Regions from separate parts of the Homo sapiens genome. Here all the other regions are linked to region 1. The links come from fine-mapping of genetic effects on gene expression. A gene starts in region 1. Each other region holds a variant in brackets. All regions are shown on one strand. Distances are from middle to middle.

Region 1 (2,764 bases):
AGGCTGGCGGGCGGATCACCTGAGGTTGGGAGTTCGAGACCAGCCTAACCAACATGGTGAGACCCCGTCTCTATTAAAAATACAAAAAATTTGCTGGGCGTGGTGGTGCATGCCTGTAATCTCAGCAACTTGGGAGGCTGAGGCAGGAGAATCGCTTGAACCTGGGAGGCAGAGGTTGCGGTGAGTCGAGATCACACCATTGCACCCCAGCCTGGGCAACGAGAGCGAAACTCCGTCTCAAAAAAAAAAAAATTCTCTTCACTTATGTTAATGGTAATAAATGGTATAAAATATACAGGTAACAGTATAGGAATTCCAGTTTATTACAGTATCAATAACATTAAGGCCGAGCGCAGTGGCTCACGCCTGTAATCCCAGCACTTGTGGGAGGCCGAGGCGGGAGGATCGCTTGAGTTGGAGGTTACAGTGAGCTATGATCACACCACTGCACTTCAGCCTGGCGAGACAGCGGATACCTTGTCTTTAGAAAGCAAAACAAAACAATTTACACACACACACACACACACACACTCTCCCTAATTCGGCTTGAGTTGGAGGTTACAGTGAGCTATGATCACACCACTGCACTTCAGCCTGGCGAGACAGCGGAGACCTTGTCTTTAGAAAGCAAAACAAAACAATTTACACATACACACACACACACACGCACACACACACTCTCCCTAATTCGGCCTACTCAAGCACGATACCAAATAGATGAAGAATATCTAATTAAATGGCCATAAAAAGTTCTAGTTCATGACATCCAAGTTTAAAGAATCAAAATGAGTTACGAGAAAACAAACACAAGCTTTAAGAAGTTGGGGAGAAGATGTGCGTGGATTCGCTTCAAAGATGTGACAGAGAGAAAAGAGGACATTTTCTGGACTGGAGATTCAAGACAGTCTGGTTCAGGTTGCATGCTTTTGCAAAGGCTAAAGCCTTAGTCTGTGACATAAATTTGTAAAGAGCTCGGAAAATTACATCTCGGACATGGTGTCTTTTTTTCCTGCTGCTTGAAGGTCTTTGCATTTATGTTCGCATCACTGGGGCAGCTGCCGCTATAATTACTGCTTGTTGGGACTTTTTGTTTACTTGGTAGCTGTGGTGCACCAAGAGAGGCAGAAAAAGAAGAAAAAAAACCTCTGTTACTTGTGACGTTAAGAAGTCGAAAGCAGCCCTGCTTACATCTTCCACGGACCATTTTAGCCCAAGGGAAGGTCCTCAGCAGCTCTAACACGTAGCGGAGCACTATCTCCGCGTAGGAGCGCTCCCGCCCCGGGGCGGGACCAGGACAAACCCCGCCTCCCAAGCCCAATCCCAGCTCTCCGCCGGCGGACAGGAAGCGGCGGCAGGCCTAGCAGCACGGGAACCGTCCCCCGCGCGCATGCGCGCGCCCCTGAAGCGCCTGGGGGACGGGTAGGGGCGGGAGGTAGGGGCGCGGCTCCGCGTGCCAGTTGGGTGCCCGCGCGTCACGTGGTGAGGAAGGAGGCGGAGGTCTGAGTTTCGAAGGAGGGGGGGAGAGAAGAGGGAACGAGCAAGGGAAGGAAAGCGGGGAAAGGAGGAAGGAAACGAACGAGGGGGAGGGAGGTCCCTGTTTTGGAGGAGCTAGGAGCGTTGCCGGCCCCTGAAGTGGAGCGAGAGGGAGGTGCTTCGCCGTTTCTCCTGCCAGGGGAGGTCCCGGCTTCCCGTGGAGGCTCCGGACCAAGCCCCTTCAGCTTCTCCCTCCGGATCGATGTGCTGCTGTTAACCCGTGAGGAGGCGGCGGCGGCGGCAGCGGCAGCGGAAGATGGTGTTGCTGAGAGTGTTAATTCTGCTCCTCTCCTGGGCGGCGGGGATGGGAGGTGAGGCACGACTGCGAGCGCCGGGGGCGCCGCGACCACGGCGGAGCGGCGGCCGGGCCGAGCGGAGCCCAGTCGCGCCTCGCGGCGTGCGCGTCAGTCAGCCCAGCCGGCCAGCGGCGCCACTCTGGCGGGCCGCGCTCCCCGCTCCCTATTGTCCCCCGCGCCCCGACCGCTTTCCCTTCGGTGGCGGGCCGAGGAGGCTCCCAAGCCTCCGGCGAGGCCTTCCCCGCCCCCCACCGCCCTGGCGGCCCCGGGAGGCGGGGGTCGCCTCCCAGAGAAGCGAAGTCGGGGCATCCGCGTCGCCTGGTGAGAGCGGTGGAACCCAGGCTGGTGGCTGCATCCCTCCAGTCTGCTCGGCGGGCGCCGGTGCAGGCAGCCGCAGCGAGGCTGGCGGTCTCGCCGTCCTCGTTCAGCGCTCATCCTGCTCACCATTCCTCCCCCAGCCCCTGCCCGGTGGCGGATTCCGAAGTCCTCTCCGCCGCCGAGACCCGCCGCGCAGACTCGTGGGAAGTTGTGTTGTTTGCAGCTGGGCTCGTGTATTGTTCTTTACCCGGCGCGCCGGTCCTGACCGACCCCATTCTGCAGAGGGGCCGCCCGTGGAGTGGCAGCAGTCATCACCCGCTTATCTGAGACTAGTGGCCTCGGTTCTTCCTGTGTCCTGTGTTTGGAGAGAGATCACAGGAGGGTGTGTTGGTGTTCTTGAAAACATTCTGTCGCCCAGGGGAAAGGGTTTGGTCGGGAGAAGGGTAAACCATTTGGGGATGTTCTTTGATTTGTAGGCTGGATTGGGTCTCTTAGAGTAGAAGTTCGGTCCCTGGGTGACCCAACTTGAAGAGTTTCGTTAAACTTTCAGGTGGAGTAGATGTACAGTGTAGTTAGTGGATTGTCAAAACAGTGCCCCCTCCCCCCTGCACATGAAA
Region 2 (2,764 bases), 140 kb after region 1:
GTCCTTGTTGTACAGCACAGTGTGCATTCAAGTCAAAGTCTGAGAAGTGTCGGGATGATTCAGACTGTGCAAGGGAAGGAATATGTAATGGCTTCACAGCTCTCTGCCCAGCATCTGACCCTAAACCAAACTTCACAGACTGTAATAGGCATACACAAGTGTGCATTAATGGGGTAAGCATTTAACTATATGTTTTAAAATTTAATTTTAGAAAACTTGTTTTTCAGAAGAATTATTGATGCTTAAAGCTACATAGTTAAAGTAATTAATCTTGGTCTCTGTTTAAGTAATATTCCCTCACAAAACCATGAATATATTATGTGGCATTCAATTAGCTACTAATTTGTCTTTCATCTTTCCATGTACATGTGGTTGATATTCTCTAGAGAAACATAGTTGTACAACTCGGCATGTGATTTGTCTATAATATTTAAGTTTTATAAAATAATATTTCAGTAGCCTAAATAAAAGAACTCTTTGGTCATCTTCTCTGAATATCAAACCTTCAAAGCTTTTGTGGCTGAATATCACTTTGCTCTACAGGAAAAAAATTTAATTTTTCTTTCTTTATAGAAGAGCCGTAATAACCAACATAAAATCGATCCTCATCTAATCTCTTGCTCTGCTTTTATTTCATTTTTTTAAGTTGCCATTGCTTTAAAAGATTTACTATCTTTCTTGGATTTACTGTTTTTCAAATTTTTTCAAATGTATTTATGTAATTCAGTTTTGATACTCATCTCTGTTTGTTTTTCACTTTCATTTCCATTTAAATATTTTGACATTGGAAGCTCATACTTGCCTGTCTGTTACTATAAAAAATAGGTTTGACTGTATAGGGATTAAACAATTTGTCTTTTATTTTTCTTCTAGCAATGTGCAGGTTCTATCTGTGAGAAATATGGCTTAGAGGAGTGTACGTGTGCCAGTTCTGATGGCAAAGATGATAAAGAATTATGCCATGTATGCTGTATGAAGAAAAGTAAGGCTTTTAAAAACACAAGAGTATAAAATTTGCCTCAAACTATTATTTTCTCCTAAATTTTAAGTGTAAAACTTTGACCTACAGTTTGGCCAGATAATTTCCAGCTAAATCTGTCCTCTTGAGGAGATTATAAATGTAACGTAGCATTGTGTCTCTATTATTATGGTCTCTACAATGTTTTAAAAATGATAAACTAGACAAAACGTTGCCAGCTTTACAGCAGTAATTTACATAAACACTGTTAGACTTTAAGTCATCGTGGACACTGAGTCAAGACTTGCTGGTTGCTTGTTTACATTGTAACATTTAATATGAATTACTGATGGCGTTACCCAGCCTAACTAGAGAAGGTCTGTATAACATGTTATGGTAATGATTTCAGTTTTTTTTCCCTCTTTGTATTTGCACAACTGGAAATCTGATCT[T/G]CAACTTATATTTGAATCTGACCTTCAGCTTATATTTGGCATTTCTTTTCCAGTGGACCCATCAACTTGTGCCAGTACAGGGTCTGTGCAGTGGAGTAGGCACTTCAGTGGTCGAACCATCACCCTGCAACCTGGATCCCCTTGCAACGATTTTAGAGGTTACTGTGATGTTTTCATGCGGTGCAGATTAGTAGATGCTGATGGTCCTCTAGCTAGGCTTAAAAAAGCAATTTTTAGTCCAGAGCTCTATGAAAACATTGCTGAATGGATTGTGGTAAGTATGTTTTTTATTTACAAAGAAAACTTAAAGTGGTTTGATCTTAATTTTACTTGGCCAGAAGTCATCAAAGTTACGAGAAAACAACTTAACTATTTATATTAGAATTACTTTATATGAAGATTTTTAAAGTTCTAATATTTCTGGTTATTATTTCCTTCTGAAGTGATCAGAATCATGTGTATCATTCATAGATTGCTTAGTAGGTGATGGGAGTCATTCTGTTTTACCGTGCTCCTTAGTTCATCTCCTGGATGGGTTACTTCTTTTGGTGCATATTATTAGGGCATTTTCATGGGACTTAAAAAACATTTTTTTTTGTTGTTTTTCAAGACAACTTATTTGCCCAAATCGTGGACTAATTGGTGATTTTTCCTGATCTTTCAGTATAATCTCTGGGTCTTTATCTTGTTTGTAATAGGAAATGTTGAACAGAATAAGATCAGATACACAGCCTTTTGTAGATCTACTAATGATTATGGATGTTCATCCAGCAGTAATCCACTGAACGCTTATTTTTAAGCCCACATATCTCCAAGTTGTACAAACACAGAATTACCTGATGTTTTCTTAAAAGATTGTCAAGATTGACTATCTCAACTTAAGTGTTCATGCTTTAAAAGTGATAACATTAAAATATCTATAGGAAGCTTGCAAATGATATATTTGAGAATGTGCTATAATTGAACTGAATGTAGTTTGCTTTGGAAATTGACTTATAACTCACATTCCCCTTTCTCAAATTAGTGTGTATGTGTGTGTGTGTGTATGTATGTATGTGTGTGTTCAGAACTATGGATGCCTTAAAGCACAAAAGATGTTGTTTGTGTGGGATGTCAGCCTTTTTTGTACTCTTCTAATAACATTCTAGAGTAAAAATTTTATAGTTAACCCCAGCATTTAAAATGATGTTTACCGTTCCTAGGACACATTAGGATATGTGGTTTTTAGATATGTAATGATCATGGAGTAGAAGGATTGTTGAAATTGGATTTAGGAGATCTACCTAGGTTTCAAACCAAATACTTGAGCAGTTGACTTAACTTAGGTTTCCTTAAAACATGTTACTCTTTTTTT
Region 3 (2,764 bases), 61 kb after region 1:
CTTCCCTCCTGTTTTCTTAAAATAGTTTTATAGGACATCAGGGGAACCATCTGGCCCTGGTATTTTTCTTGTGGAAAGGCCTTAAATCATGAATTCATTTTCTTCAGTAGATAGGGGCTTATTCAGATTTTCTATATTTTGTGATAGTTTTCATAATTTGTACCTTTTAAGGAGTTTATTTTATCTAAGTAATTGAATTTATTTTCATTATGCTCATAATATTACTTTATCACTCAATGTCTGCAGTACTGGAATGATGTTTTCTTTTTTATTCTTCATTGACAATGTATTTTTTAATGATCTTTTTTATTGGCTGTAGAATTTGGATTGACATTGTTTTTCTTTCAGCATTAAAAAAGTTACTCCAATAATTTCTAGCTTGCATTATTATTATTATTATTTTTGTGGAGACAGAGTCTTGCTCTGTGGCCCACGTTGGAGTGCAGTGGCATGATCTCAGCTCACTGCAACCTCTGCCTCCTGGGTTCAAGCAATTCTCCTGCCTCATCCTACTGAGTAGCTGGGACTACAGATGCACACCACCATGCCCGGCTAATTTTTTGTATTTTAGTAGAGACAGGCTTTCACCATGTTGCCCAGGCTGGTCTCGAACTCCTAAGCTAAGGCAATCTGCCCACCTTGGCCTCCCAAAGTGCTAGGATTACAGGCGTGAGCCACCACGCCCGGCCTGCTTGCATTATTTCTAATGTTAAATCAGCAGTCACTCTGCATATAATCAGTCTCTTTGATGGATTTTAAGATTTTCTCTTTAACGCTGATTTTCAGCAGTGACTGTGGTGTGTTTTGTGGGTTTTTCTTTGTGTGTATCTTTCTTGGTGTTTGTTGAGTTACTTAGACTTGTGTTTATAGTTTTATCAGTTTGGAAGTTTTTTATCATTTTATCAAATTTTTTTTTCTGTCTCCTCTCGCTTCTTTATTTATTTACTGTTTGATAGGTTACTGAGGCTCTGGGTTTTTTTTTTTTAAACTCTTTATCTCTCTGTACATCAAGTTAGATAGTTTTTGTTACCCTGTCTTCAAGTTCGCTGATATTCTTTCTTGCAGTATCTCATCTGCTCTTAAGTCAGTCCAGTGAGAGAGAGAGATATATATATATATATATATA[A/TATAA]TTTTTTTTTTCATTTTAGAAATTATATTTTCCAATTCTGGAAGTTTCCTCCCCTCTCATTCCTTTCCCTCTCTCCTCTCTTCCCTGTCCCTCCCCTTCCCTCCCCTCTTTCGACAGTTTTTGGTTTCTCCTTATTGTGCTTATATTTTCCCCATAATTCTTTAACATATTTACAATATATAGACACTAAATCACTAAATCCTTGTCTGCTAATTCCGTTATCATTCATTCTCACTTTTTTTGGGGGGGACTAATTTTCTTCTTCTTTGTCACATTTCTTTATAGTTAGTGGTTTGGTTTTTTTACCCCTTGTTTTTTTTAATAGTTTGTGGTTTTTAATTGGATATTTCACATTTTGATTAATATTTAGTGTCTTTTTGTCGTTGTTTGTTTTTTTTAAAATTAGAGATGGAGTCTTGCTACATTGCCCAGGCTGATTGAAAACTCCTGGGCTCAAGCAATCTTCCCACCTTGCCCTCCCAAAATACTGGGACTACAGGTGTGAGCCACTGTGCCCACCTGTGTCTGGATTTTTAAAAAACTTTTAATTTAAAAATAATTGTAGAGTCACAGGAGCTTCTACTGGGAAGTCCTGGACATCTTTCCCCCAGTCTCCCTCAGTGTTCACAATTTATATAACTATATTACAACATCAAAACCAAGATTGATATTGGTACAATGCATAGAGTTTATTTGGGTTTCATCAGTTTTACATGTACGTGCATGTGTGTGTGCCTGTGCATAATTCTGTGCAATTTTGTCACATGGGTAGTCTTGTGTAATTATCCCTACAATCAAAGATACTCAATGGTAGCATCACCAGACTCCCTTGTGCTATCCCTTTATGGCCACATTCATCCCCTCCCCCATCTATAATCCTAAACAACCATTAATTGGTTCTCCATCTCCATAATTAGATTATTTCATGATTGTCGCATGAATCGTATTATGCAAGTAGTATCTTTGAGATTGACTTTTCCACTCAGCATAATTTTTTTGAAGTTTGTACAAATTGTTGTGTTTATCAATAGTTTGTTCCTTTTTATTACTAAATTCTATCCTATTGTATGGATATACCACAGTTTAACTGTTCGTATTTTTTTTTTAAAAAGTATGGAGTTTTGTTTGTTAGATAGTTGAGTAACTTGTGGATCAGCTTGACCCTTTTGAGCCTTTTTTTTTTTTATGATTAATTAAGCAGAAATTTTATTTCCAAGCTCTTCAAAGACTGTTACAAACACAAATAATGTATCCTTCTAAAAAAGTGTCCCAAATTAAATCAGATTCACATCATCAAAGTAAAACCCTTGTGAAGTTAAGAATTCTTTTAGGTTGTAATGTTTTTATGTTAGTTTTTAATCATTTACAATGTTCTGTGGGTCACATTTTAAACATTTTTAAATATATGAAATTCTGTATTTCTTTAAGTACAGCCACAGCTACAAAGTAGAGGAACGTAAGAATACAAAGACCAAATCTGCTTCATTTATATACACGATGGGGCAGCCTAATGCACATCATAACATTAACTTTTCCAAACAAGTTTGCTAAGAATCTGCTCCCATAATTAGTGTTAAAAATAAAACAATCTTCCCATTTAGAAAAATCAAGACATCAGTTGATTAGTAAAGCCTATTC

Which allele goes with the higher level. Alleles are on the strand shown, and positions count from the first base shown. SD is a standard deviation of normalised expression in the study named. Not every link is listed here.
As copies of T replace G in region 2, the expression in cerebellar hemisphere of the gene that starts at base 1,617 in region 1 goes up (small effect, 0.28 SD a copy in GTEx).

The links. PIP is the estimated chance that this variant, and not a neighbour inherited with it, causes the effect. A credible set is the group of variants that fine-mapping cannot tell apart.
Region 2: its variant is the best candidate, but not a certain one, in a credible set for the expression of ADAM10 in cerebellar hemisphere (GTEx, PIP 0.61).
Region 3: its variant is the best candidate, but not a certain one, in a credible set for the expression of ADAM10 in whole blood (INTERVAL, PIP 0.51).

The regions. Positions count from the first base shown.
Region 1 is chr15:58,748,560-58,751,323 of GRCh38, reverse strand. ADAM10 (ADAM metallopeptidase domain 10) reads left to right here and starts at 1,617. Exons shown (of 16, transcript NM_001110.4): 1 at 1,617-1,844. The coding sequence starts at 1,790. RefSeq lists enhancers at 998-1,177, 2,268-2,397, 1,849-2,484 and silencers at 1,248-1,537, 1,868-2,157.
Region 2 is chr15:58,609,217-58,611,980 of GRCh38, reverse strand. ADAM10 (ADAM metallopeptidase domain 10) reads left to right here. Exons shown (of 16, transcript NM_001110.4): 12 at 1-173; 13 at 874-982; 14 at 1,464-1,684. Among named protein-coding and RNA genes, the nearest start is that of LIPC-AS1, 110 kb to the right of the region's middle. The variant T/G (reference allele first, on the strand shown) is at 1,411.
Region 3 is chr15:58,687,129-58,689,892 of GRCh38, reverse strand. All of the region lies in intron 2 of ADAM10 (ADAM metallopeptidase domain 10), which reads left to right. It also overlaps the pseudogene LOC100289060. Among named protein-coding and RNA genes, the nearest start is that of ADAM10, 61 kb to the left of the region's middle. The variant A/TATAA (reference allele first, on the strand shown) is at 1,127.